Regions from separate parts of the Homo sapiens genome. Here region 1 is linked to region 2. Evidence: fine-mapped expression QTL. A gene starts in region 2. The other region holds a variant in brackets. All regions are shown on one strand. Distances are between the middles of the regions.

Region 1 (5,378 bases), 270 kb after region 2:
TTTTTTTAGTTCAAAGCATCTTTTTAGTTAAAAAATGTATGTTTTCCTTCCATATTTTATTTTAAAGGGCAGATTTAAGATGCAGGATATATAGAACATGTTGTAATCCATAAGCACTCAGCATTAACTGAAAAGCATAGGATTAATTGAAATTTCAGAATGGTCTGTCACTACTTCCTGATATCAAACAAGCAAGAGATTGATGGAGCAGCTCTGGACCCACAGAGAGAAGCCCAAATGTGTGGAGTGAGTGGCAGGGTTGTGGTTCCACAGGCCTGACAGCAAGGAATGTACTCCTGGTTTTGAGAATCAGTGGAACATTTATGTTGATTATATCAAGCTCTTAAATCTCTTTCACTTCTCAGTGTCAGCCAATCAGATTATGGAATTTTTGAAAATTTTTTTCAGTCCAAAGTTAGATGGATATGTATGTGGATGCATGAACTCTCCCCAAAATGATTATAAAATAGAACCAAAGTCATAAATCATTTTTAATTGAGTAAAGCTGGTCCCCGAGGAAAAGTAGTTAAAATAGAGTGCTGGCTAATGGGTCCACTGTGAAAGACAATTGCAGCACCTCTGATGGGTGCCATTGTTTTGAAACTGTCACTAAATTGTTCCAATTAATTTCACTTGGATTTATGAATAAATATTCTTTCTCCATTGGGCTTTCTAACTTGTCTTTGTGTTAGAAAACCCACCTTAGCTCCATCAACCTACAATATTTTTTCCAGTGGTATGATTTATATGCTAATGATTTTCTAATTTATGTATTTTTAAAAAGCTTAGGGGACATCATATTTTTGGGTAGTTAAAGCAGTTTTTTGGGTGAAATATATGAGAATAACTAACAGTAGGTGACAATACAAAGGGAAAGTGTGATTTAATGAGCTGCTTTGGAAATAGGTTAGAACATTGACACTGAGGGGAATGTGGGCTCCCAGTGCACTCCCAGCTTCAGGACTATTCTAGAAACTGTAGCGAGGTATTTCTTTAAGCCACAAGAGTGTGAAGTCTTTCTAAAGCTTCTCAGAGACCAAAAGGGGGATACTAATGAACACAAACTATAATACAATTCTAATTTTACAGTACACTTAACGTTGCTGATAGCATTTTAGAGCATAATTAAGTCAAATTGGAAGGAGATTTTGGTAGGAAAATAGTCCTCTTGGCTGAGAAAGTAGATACTCATTTAAGTATTATTTACCCTCCGTTGACAATGTGCAAGCAAGCACCGTGGAGTTTACACAGTAGAATTCTAAAATATATTAAAATAGTTTTGAGTATTTTGTGATTTCCTGTCTCACGTGAAGAAGCATCTACTTTAGGATGACAGAAGGAAATGGGGAATTATGCCTGTACACTTCAACTTCTCTCAATAGAGGACTAAAAAAAGGCAGTACTACCCCTTCCAAAATATAACATAGTTTTCAAATAACAAGCTGCTTAAATTAACTTAGGGAGCAGTCATACAGAAGAAATCATTGGCTTTTAAAAGCAGATTTCCCTTGAGTACTACACTGACTTTTTCTTTTCTCTTGAGCTTCATAAAATGGAAACGGAAGCACGTATTTTCTTCCAGTGACCTCTACGTTATAATTTTAAAATATTGGTTAAAGACTGAAAGGTAACCATCATTAAACTTTGTAAAGAAAAATCAGAAAATCTAACTAAGTAACTTCAAATTAGCTACTTAAAGTTCCTTCTCAACTGTGATGATCCTCCTGGAACATGAGATAAAGATAAAGCTTTATCTTGCTGGCTGCTACCATAGCTTTCAGCTATCAAGGATCCTTTCTGTTGGTTCCATAGAAATCCACTAAATTGGGTCTGTTCCCTCAATGTCCCCTGTCCACGCCTCAACCCCTTTCCATCTCATCGCTCATCTTAGTCAGCCTTGCTAAACAGCAGTTGAATGGAACACATCTGACCGAAACAAGGACTGTAAAACTGCCCAACTCTTTGCTATTTTTCCTCATCCCACTTTAATTTTTAAAGACTTTGTTTGAACCCCAGAACTTGTGATGCATCAATCAAAACTTTGCAGTTAGGGACAACAGAAATATGAAATGGTCTTATATGTCAATGAAGGGGTTAAGGGAGCCATTTTTCCAGGCATTTAGCCTCAAATTAGCACTCTGGAATGTGGGGAATGTTTTAAACATAAAAAAAGCTGAGTTGTATATTATAATACATGGTAAATTTTTAAATGTTAGGGTTTCATATCACAGAACATACACACTGGAAATTAAAAGACCCATTGTTTTGAAACTTCTGCTGTTCAGATTCTTCCCTAAGCACTAGTTATAGCTGATTTAAAGACAGGGGAGGGGGTCTTAGCAGCCTGATGTGTGATTTGAGGTTCTACTTCCATTCCTTTCTATGAAAGCTGGACGAGCAGAATTCCCAAACTTTGGTCTGAAGATTTAGGGCTCACTTTATCATTACCTTTGGACCAGGCAGCTGGTTAATTTCTTGGAAACCAGGAGAAAATGAAATATTAGCACAAATAGAGTTACAAATTGGTTTTCAATCTGCCCTTTGTTGAAAAATTTTTGTGGTGCCTCGGATAGTTTACAAAGTATAAGAGATTTCCACCGTGGAAA[A/T]TTGGACTCCGAGCTCTTTGAGAGTATGAAATATATCTTATGCCTTTCTTGTAAACTTTGCATAATTGTTTAGTTTGGCTAAAGGAATTAGCGGAGATCTTTGACAGGAGGCACAGAGAGCCTTGCGATGGAGCGGCTGTCTAGTGAGTGGGCAAGCTGGCAGTGCCCCAAGAGGCGATAATGTAGGAGGCACCACAAAGCCCGCCTTGTTCCAAAATGCCTCTCCAAGCTTGGCCATTTCTCTCACTCAGCAACTTCCTCTTCCCCTGACTCCAGCAATTGCTCTTTCATGAACTATAAAGTTGCCCCCATGAGTTAGTCCCTTAGTTACTTCCAGCAGGCCACATGGAGCTAAGTCCTGGTGAAAGGGTGCCAGAAGGGATCAAATCCTTCATTCCTTTCTTCTTCCCTTTCCTTCCCTCCTCTCTCTCTCTTTTATTCCACCTCCCTCAAAAAGGGCTTATGATAGTGATTTTTAAAACAAAATTCATTGACCTGGAATCTTGTATCAGATTAGGCGATTAGGAAAGAGAACGGAAAAGTCCAGGCAGTGACCCTTTTTTTTTTCCTGCCTTTAGCATGAATAGACACTTTCCTTCACATCACATCATCAGCCCTACTGGGTTTTCTGTCACCTTCTCTGCCTCCCAGGAATAGATATTTCAATGCAAGTGGGTGAGAATAAACCCATTATGGTCTGTATTATATACACCCCCAAACATGTAAATCATTTGTTTAGTCAGGGTTCTCTAGCAGGACAGAACTAATAGGATAGATGTATATATGAAGGGAAGTTTATTAAGGAATGTTGACTCACAAGATCACAAGGTGAAGTCCCATAATAGGCTGTCTGCAAGCTGATGAGCAAGGAAGCCAGTCTGAGTTCCAAAACCTCAAAAGTAGGGAAGCTGACAGTGCAGCCTTCAGTCTGTGGCAGAAGGCCTGAGAGCTCCTGGCAGATCACTGGTGTGAGTCCAAGAGTCCAAAAGCTGAAGAACTTGGAGTCTGATATTCAAGGGCAGGAAGCATCCAGCATGGGAGAAAGATGAAGGCCAGAAGACTTAGCAAGTCTAGTCCTTCCACGTTCTTTTTCCTGCTTTATTCCAGATGTACTGGCAGCCGATTAGATGGTGCCCACCCAGATTCAAGATGGGTCTGTCTCTCCCAGTCCACTGACTCAAATGTTAACCTCTGTTGGCAACATCCTCACAGATATACCAGGAACAATACTTTGCCTCCTTCAATCCAATCAAGTTGACACTTAATATTAACCATCACAGCATTTATTATTATAAGATATTTTAACTATTCTTTGTAACAGATTATGTGACAGCTTCCAACAAATCTGGATTTATCATGGGTTCCCCTAGGGAAGATGCTAGTCAGACAGGGAACAACGTGGAAGCAACTGACTTCTTTTTCTACTTTTTAAGGAGAGAAGGCTTGATAATAGCAGCAAGCATCAAGGATACAACTATGGGCAGCTTCAATGAGTGAAAACCATCTGCTTTAAAATCAATGTGTGCGATATGAATGATTAAAAAATTTTGCCCAGAGTTTTCTTTGCAGTAGTGCGGGGGTAACTTCTCATGCAAACGGTGTCTGAGATAAATTTCCTTACTACCTTACTATAGTCGTAGTCTGAATAAATTTATTAAGAACCTTCTGGAGAACAGGATTGAAAGTGAGAAGGGTAGACAGTTGCCTGCAAGAGCTACTAGGCTTCAAAGGGGTAACTGAGGGGTTGCCTCAGTTACCCAGAATAGTGCAGCAGGTAAAAGGAGAAGATGGCTAAGGAGAACTAAGAACCCACTGCTGGAGCTGAAAGAGATGCAGAATTAAGGGATGTCAAAGTAAAATGAGAGTTTTACAAGATATAAATGAGTGTATCTTAATGCAATGGTGTCCTTCAGGCATCTGCCTCTATTCCCAGGCAGAAACCCTATAAATAAACCTGAACCCCTTTTGTATCATTTTGAAAGCTCATCTAGAATTGTCATGTTTATTTAATCACATTTCCACTTCAGGAAGTTGATAGGATGTTTCAGGAAGATAATAGGACATGCCAGAACATTTGAAAAGAGACAAACTTGTTGTCTTATACAAGACTGAGCTAGCTAGCTATCAATCTGTCATCTATCCTTCATTCATCTATTGATTCAATTTCTGCTGTGAAGTTAGAATACTTGAAGATTTCAAAGTTTTCCAGTAACCTTATGTAACTGGCATGATGTTTCTTCAGATTGGACTATATTAGGCCATATTCTGTGTTTTGGGTTTTCAGGCACCCTGGAAAACTTCCCTCCCTGCCTTAAAACGCCAGTAATCACTTTGACCACTGTTCTAATGCAAACAGTGTCTGAGATAAATTTCCTTACTATTGTCATAGTCTGAATAAATTTATTAAGAACCTTCTGGAGAACAGGATTGAAAATGAGAAGGGTAGACAGTTGCCTGCAAGAGCTACTGGGTTTCAAAGGGGGAAAGGAGTAAGTAAAATGGAAGTTGGGGTCTTGTTAAAATTCCACTTTACAGTCTTGTGAATGACTAATGTCATTGTTATCCACTAGAAGGATAAAGAAACAAGCTTGGTGATAGATTACGTCATGTGCATCCTTGTGCCTACTGATGTGTGAGGAACTGCTTTCAGTGGAACATGAATTATTACAAATTGATGTGGTTTTTGGAGACCTCTTTGCTGAGAGGAGCCTTGGTTTTAAGATGGGTAGGTGTTTGTATTAAGCAACGATGTCCTTTCTTTTGTTTCTGTCA
Region 2 (5,378 bases):
TTTAAAAGCCTTAATCAAAGAAACTGCAAAATTTAACTTTTTTGGTCTTTTCAGAATTATCAAAAGAGAGAATATTAGGAACAACTAGACTTACCTACATCTGACTCTAAAGTTAAGAGTTCAGCTATTAACCCTATAGGAGATCTTTATTTCTCCCTAGCTAATATTAGATTTTATCTGGGGGACTCAAGCTGACTTATTACACCACCACACACCATGGACAAATAGTGCTTCCATGGACCTTGATTATAAAAACATAATAAGCTTTTTAAGCTTCACTGGTGTTACTGGCAGAACTGATTGAATCTGTCACTTTAGTAAAATATATCATTTTTCTTTTTAAAACCTATGAACCAACAGGCTCACTCGGTGATAACTCGCCAATTAGTACCAAATTAAAGATGGAAAAATTAATTTACTAAGCCCATTCAGTTGCATCAATATGTCTATCTCTATAAACTATCCAGTTTTTCCTTCCTTTTTCCCTCCCTCTCTCCATCCCTCCCTCTTTTCCTTCCTTCCTTCCTTTTGAGGCTTATTTATAAGAATGAATCATACTACATTAGCCATGACTTATTAAACTTGGAGATTTTCAAGTTCATCAGCAAGTGTGCAAACCCTTAACTGTGGGTAACATCCATTTATTTGTAGCACCTTTCGGTTTTAATATGTAGAGCACATGCATTGTTAACCTCTAAATCCTTTGTATAAACATTTCTGGAAGAGCTGGTAAAATATCTCCTTCTGTGTTTCCTGACTCGCCAGTTGATGGCATTTAGAAACCCTCTGGTACCAGCAGGTGCTGTATTTTGCTTTCTTCAGGCTCCAGCTGGGCTACAATGACAGATTCCTGTCCCAGGCCAAGCCTAGCCACCAAGGCTAGGACCACATTGGAGGCAAACTGAACCAGGCTCCACCAGACAGCAAGATGAATGGCTGCTGTTTAAGTTTAAAATCCCCTGGTGGGAGTAAATATTGTTCCAGAGAAAAGCCTTGACAAATACTGCGTCATCCTTACAGAACTGTCTTGATTAAAGCAGAATCTTTGGATTAAGTTGATGCTCAATTCAAAATGTATCTATCTTGCTGTCATGGGATTTTTTTTTGTTTTTTTTTTCCTTTCTAGAGTCTGAAAACAGACATAATGTTGGGGACGGTCAAACAAGGCTGCCGGCTCCCAAGGGGCTAGAGTCCACTCCTGATAATAGAAGGCGGCTGAACACTGACACTTCACTGAGGATAATGGAGACAGCAAAGGCTTAGTGGGAAAGGGCCAGTTGTCACCTAAGTGACAGGCAACAGCTGAGCTCACACATCTGGAGCCGGACTACGGCAAACATTAGCAACCCTCACCAGTCTACACCTTGGGCCTGTCTGAAAAGACAGATGGAAGTTCCCTCTACTCCTAAAGTACATTAAAAAATGTCTGATGGTGAACCACATCAATTATATAACATCAACTGCAGGCACAGCCTTCCAAAGTACTGATTAAGACGAGGCAGTAGACAACACTGTATGCATGAACAGATACAAGATACCATTTCAGTGATTTGTCATTCATAAAACTTATCCTAAAAGACACATATACATGCATCCATTTGATAGCACAAATGCATGTTAACTCTGCAGGAGAGGCAGATTTTTACATGTTTTTTTGGTTGTAGTTGTTGGTGCTTTTTTTTTTTCCTTTAGGCTGGTTCCCGTGGTGTGTTTGCCTTGTTCATGGTCTCAGTTCTGCCGCTGATACCCTTTTAAAAATCAGCAACCAAACGCGTTCGGCTTGTGATCCTGAACCCTCCTTAGGCAAGCTGGAACTAAGCGTGATGCAGCCGTCCTCCCTCTCTCCCAACCCCCAACCTCGTTCTTCAGCCTCCTGAAGACAATCTGTGAACAATTTTCCCAAAGTCCCAAGAATAACACAGCACTGCCAATAGTCACTGGCGATGCCGTTTGTTTTTCTTAGAGGGTAATGAAAATTTAACAGCTTTCTGCTGCATCCTGAGTCCCGCTCCTAATAACTATTAACATGCCTAGTTTCTTCAACTTTTTCTACCTCAAGAGAGGAAGACGCTCCCATTTTTTCCCTATATCTGTGCTACATTCAGCAAACACCATCGCGGGGCAGGGGGTTGGGGAGAGTGGTGGGAGTTGATTCGCCTCTGCCAAAAAGCCACCAGCCCCTTTCCCCAGCGCTAGAGGAGAGAATCGGTACCCTCCCTCCGGACGCCAGTAGGTGACAGGCGATCCTAAGCGGCGGGAACACGCCAACGCACCCTCGCCTCCCGGCGCCCCGCATCGCCTCGACCCTCGGGCTACAGAACCTGTTTCCACGCCGGAGAAAACCAAGGGAAGAGTTGGTTGTGATGCAGCAAACAGGAGCCATGCGGAGAGCCTCTGCGGAGCCCTGGCGATGCTGCAGCCAATATCTGCTTTCCCTGTCTACACAGCCCAACAAACCGATTATGACCTTCTCCCTGATCTTCTGCGACACCGACCCAGTCTGGGTGTCACAGACTCCGGCGGTGCCAGCGAAGGTGCCCGGCCCTACCCCTGCGGCGCTCGCCCCCCACCACCGCGCCGCAGCCCCCTCTGCGGAATCCGCCGGGATCCAGGCTGCCACTCACCTCGCGCGAGGGAGACGCAACTCGGCTGCACTGTCCTCGGCGCCGCTGCGGGGCTGCTGGGCTGCGGGGCTGCGGGGCTGAGGAGCTGCGGTCCGCGGCGTCAGGGGTGGGCGAGGGTGAGCAGCGCACGAACCATCCAGAGCCCAGAAAGTCTCCGTGCCGACCGCGGCGCGTCTCGGGGAAGTCAGCGCAGGCTGCGCGAGGCTGGCATGTTCCGGGCGCGCTGTCGGGCGGCGGCGGCCGCGGGAGACGGCGCTGGCAGCTGGGCTGCAGGCGGAGTGCGCTCGGGCTCCGGAGCCGCGCGCTGCGGCGCCGCCGCGCACCCCGCCCTCGGCCGCGGGGCCCGGCGCGAGCGAAAACGCGGAGCGCGGACGCCGCCGCGGGATCGAGGCCGCTGGGCGCGCGCCCACGCGTACCCCGGCTCGGCCCTGAAAGCGAGGTCGGGCCCGGCTCGGGCCGCGCCCGGGGGCAGGGCTGCGAGCAGGCCTGGGACCGGCTCCACGCGCAGCCAGTGGGGCAGAGCAGCAGGCGGATTATGCGCAGGGAGAAAAAAGTTCACCAACCGCGGTCCAGAGTCGCAAGTGCGGCTCGCTCGGAGCCTCTGCCCCGCCCCCGATTATAAGCCTTTTTTTTTTTTTTTTTTTAACCAACAATCCCGATGGACTGAAACACAGGAAGAGTGAAGGGACGGGGTGGGGGGTGGGGGAGAGACAAACCCAATTTCCTCTGATCAAACGATTTGGGTAGGGGTGCCTATTTGAGTTCCTTCTCCTTCGGGGGGTGTGTGAAGGGGGCAGTTAATTAAACACTTAGATTCCTTCCGGCGCGCCTTGCCGAGCTGGGGACCCGTTTGGACTCGATCCTGTCTCGTGTAATCCCACAGGCTGGTCTGAGTCTCTGCCCCGGAACCGGAGGAGTGATCTTTCAGAGCAAGAAGCCAAAGTTCAGCCTCTAGTCCGTTCCCTTCCCCGCCTCGACGGCCCTGGTCGTCTCCATGAAAACTCAGTGTGGGGGATCGTGCCCGCGAAAACCTCAGCCCACCGCAATGTCCAGAGCCTGACCCAAGTGAACGTGGCGCACTTAAAAGCGGGTTCAAAGCATTGATCCGAACACGGTGACAATTTTTCACTGGCCAAACTACTCTCCACATTTTCAGTCTGCTCAATTCCCAGAGCTGGGCTCTCAGGCGCACTCACCCACGTTGAACTGGGGCTCAGCCTGTTTGAAAGTTCTGCCCTGACATTTGTGTCACACTAAACCTTAGAACCCCCCACCCTCTCCAGTTCCGGATCGGTGGAGTCTCACCGTGTGGGTACTATTTCCCTGGACTGCAGAGGGCAGACACAGGCGGCAGCTGTTAACCCGAACTTGACAGGTGCCTCTGCAAAGCCAGGGCTTCCTTGACCTCTCCATCCTCTCCACAACGCTCTAGGATACTGTATCATCTTCCAGGAAGATGAGGATGTGTGTGGGGGGAGTGTGGAGGGAGGTGTTGACTGATGCAATTTTTATCCTTTTAAGAAAAATCAAAACTGCCAGTCTCAGAATTTCTCAGAACATCAAGTCTTTTCGATTTTCGTTGGGAATAAAGCAAAGGAATACTCAGCAAAAATGGAGCCGATGAAAAGAGAATGCAAGGAAATAAAGGCAAATGGAGGAGGAAACTGTCTAAATCCAGGAAAATGTATGGCTTCAGCACTGTGCTCTATAATTCTGACTCAGATCTCCCCACGCTGTAGATACTTTCTCCTGTCTAGATGCCCAGGCAGAGTTCCTGAGCTCAGATCACTCAGGAAACAAGGCTGTTGCTTTTGAAATAATTCCACTTGCTAGCGTTGTTTTTTTTTTTTTTTTTTTTTTTTTTTTTTTTTGAGACGGAGTTTCGCTCTTGTCACACAGGCTGGAGTGCAGTGGCGCGATCTCCGCTCACTGCAACCTCCGCCCCGCCCCCGTGTTGAAGCGATTCTCCTTCCTCAACCTCCCGAGTAGCTGGGATTACAGGCACCTGCCACCGCGCCCAGGTAATTTTTGTATTTTTAGTAGAGACAGTTTCCCCATGTTGGCCAGGCTGGTCTCGAACTCCTGACCTCAGGTGACGAGAATCTGGGAAAGAACAAACCAGGTTTTCTTGCCCCTCAGCATTTTATTGGAATTGGCCTTTGAAGTTGTGTCTGTTTATCTTGCTGGGGTTACAAATGCTTCTATTAAGCTATCAACTTTTAGGTTCTATCTAACCTCCAGAACTGCCAAAGAAAATTTCACTACCTCCATAGGTGAAATAAATCTTATTGCTGTACAGTGACTTCACAAAGGTTTTGTTTGTTGAGCATCTATTATGTGGAGCAGACACCCTGAGCACTGTGGATGATACATGGTCATTCCCTCTGGAGGATTACTGCCTCTTTGGACTGTGTGCTGGGCAGCATCTTTTGGATCCATTGCAAAGGTGAATACTTGGCCTTCAACCAGGACTCATAAAATTACTCCGGCCAGTGCATGTGATGGTCTGAGGTCACAACAGTCTGATTTCAAATTTCAGCCCCACCGCTTACCAAATGTAGCCTGGGGTAATGTAGTTAACCTCTCTCAGGCTTAGTTTCTCATTGGTAAGTGAGGGTAATAATATTCAGCTCAGGGAACTGTTGGGAAGATTGAATGCTGCAGAAATCACTGGAACGTTTGTATTTCATTTTATAAGGCATCTTCTCACAAGCACCCTTCTCTATAGCAGCCTCCATGCAAAATCCCACAAGT

What was found. PIP is the estimated chance that this variant, and not a neighbour inherited with it, causes the effect.
Region 1: its variant is the best candidate, but not a certain one, in a credible set for the expression of PRICKLE1 in nasal epithelium (TOPMed, PIP 0.55).

What each region holds. Positions count from the first base shown.
Region 1 is chr12:42,857,060-42,862,437 of GRCh38, forward strand. No RefSeq gene overlaps it. Among named protein-coding and RNA genes, the nearest start is that of LINC02450, 170 kb to the left of the region's middle. The variant A/T (reference allele first, on the strand shown) is at 2,607.
Region 2 is chr12:42,586,841-42,592,218 of GRCh38, forward strand. PRICKLE1 (prickle planar cell polarity protein 1) reads right to left here and starts at 2,906. Exons shown (of 8, transcript NM_153026.3): 1 at 2,625-2,906. RefSeq lists a silencer at 2,910-3,159 and an enhancer at 3,629-4,186.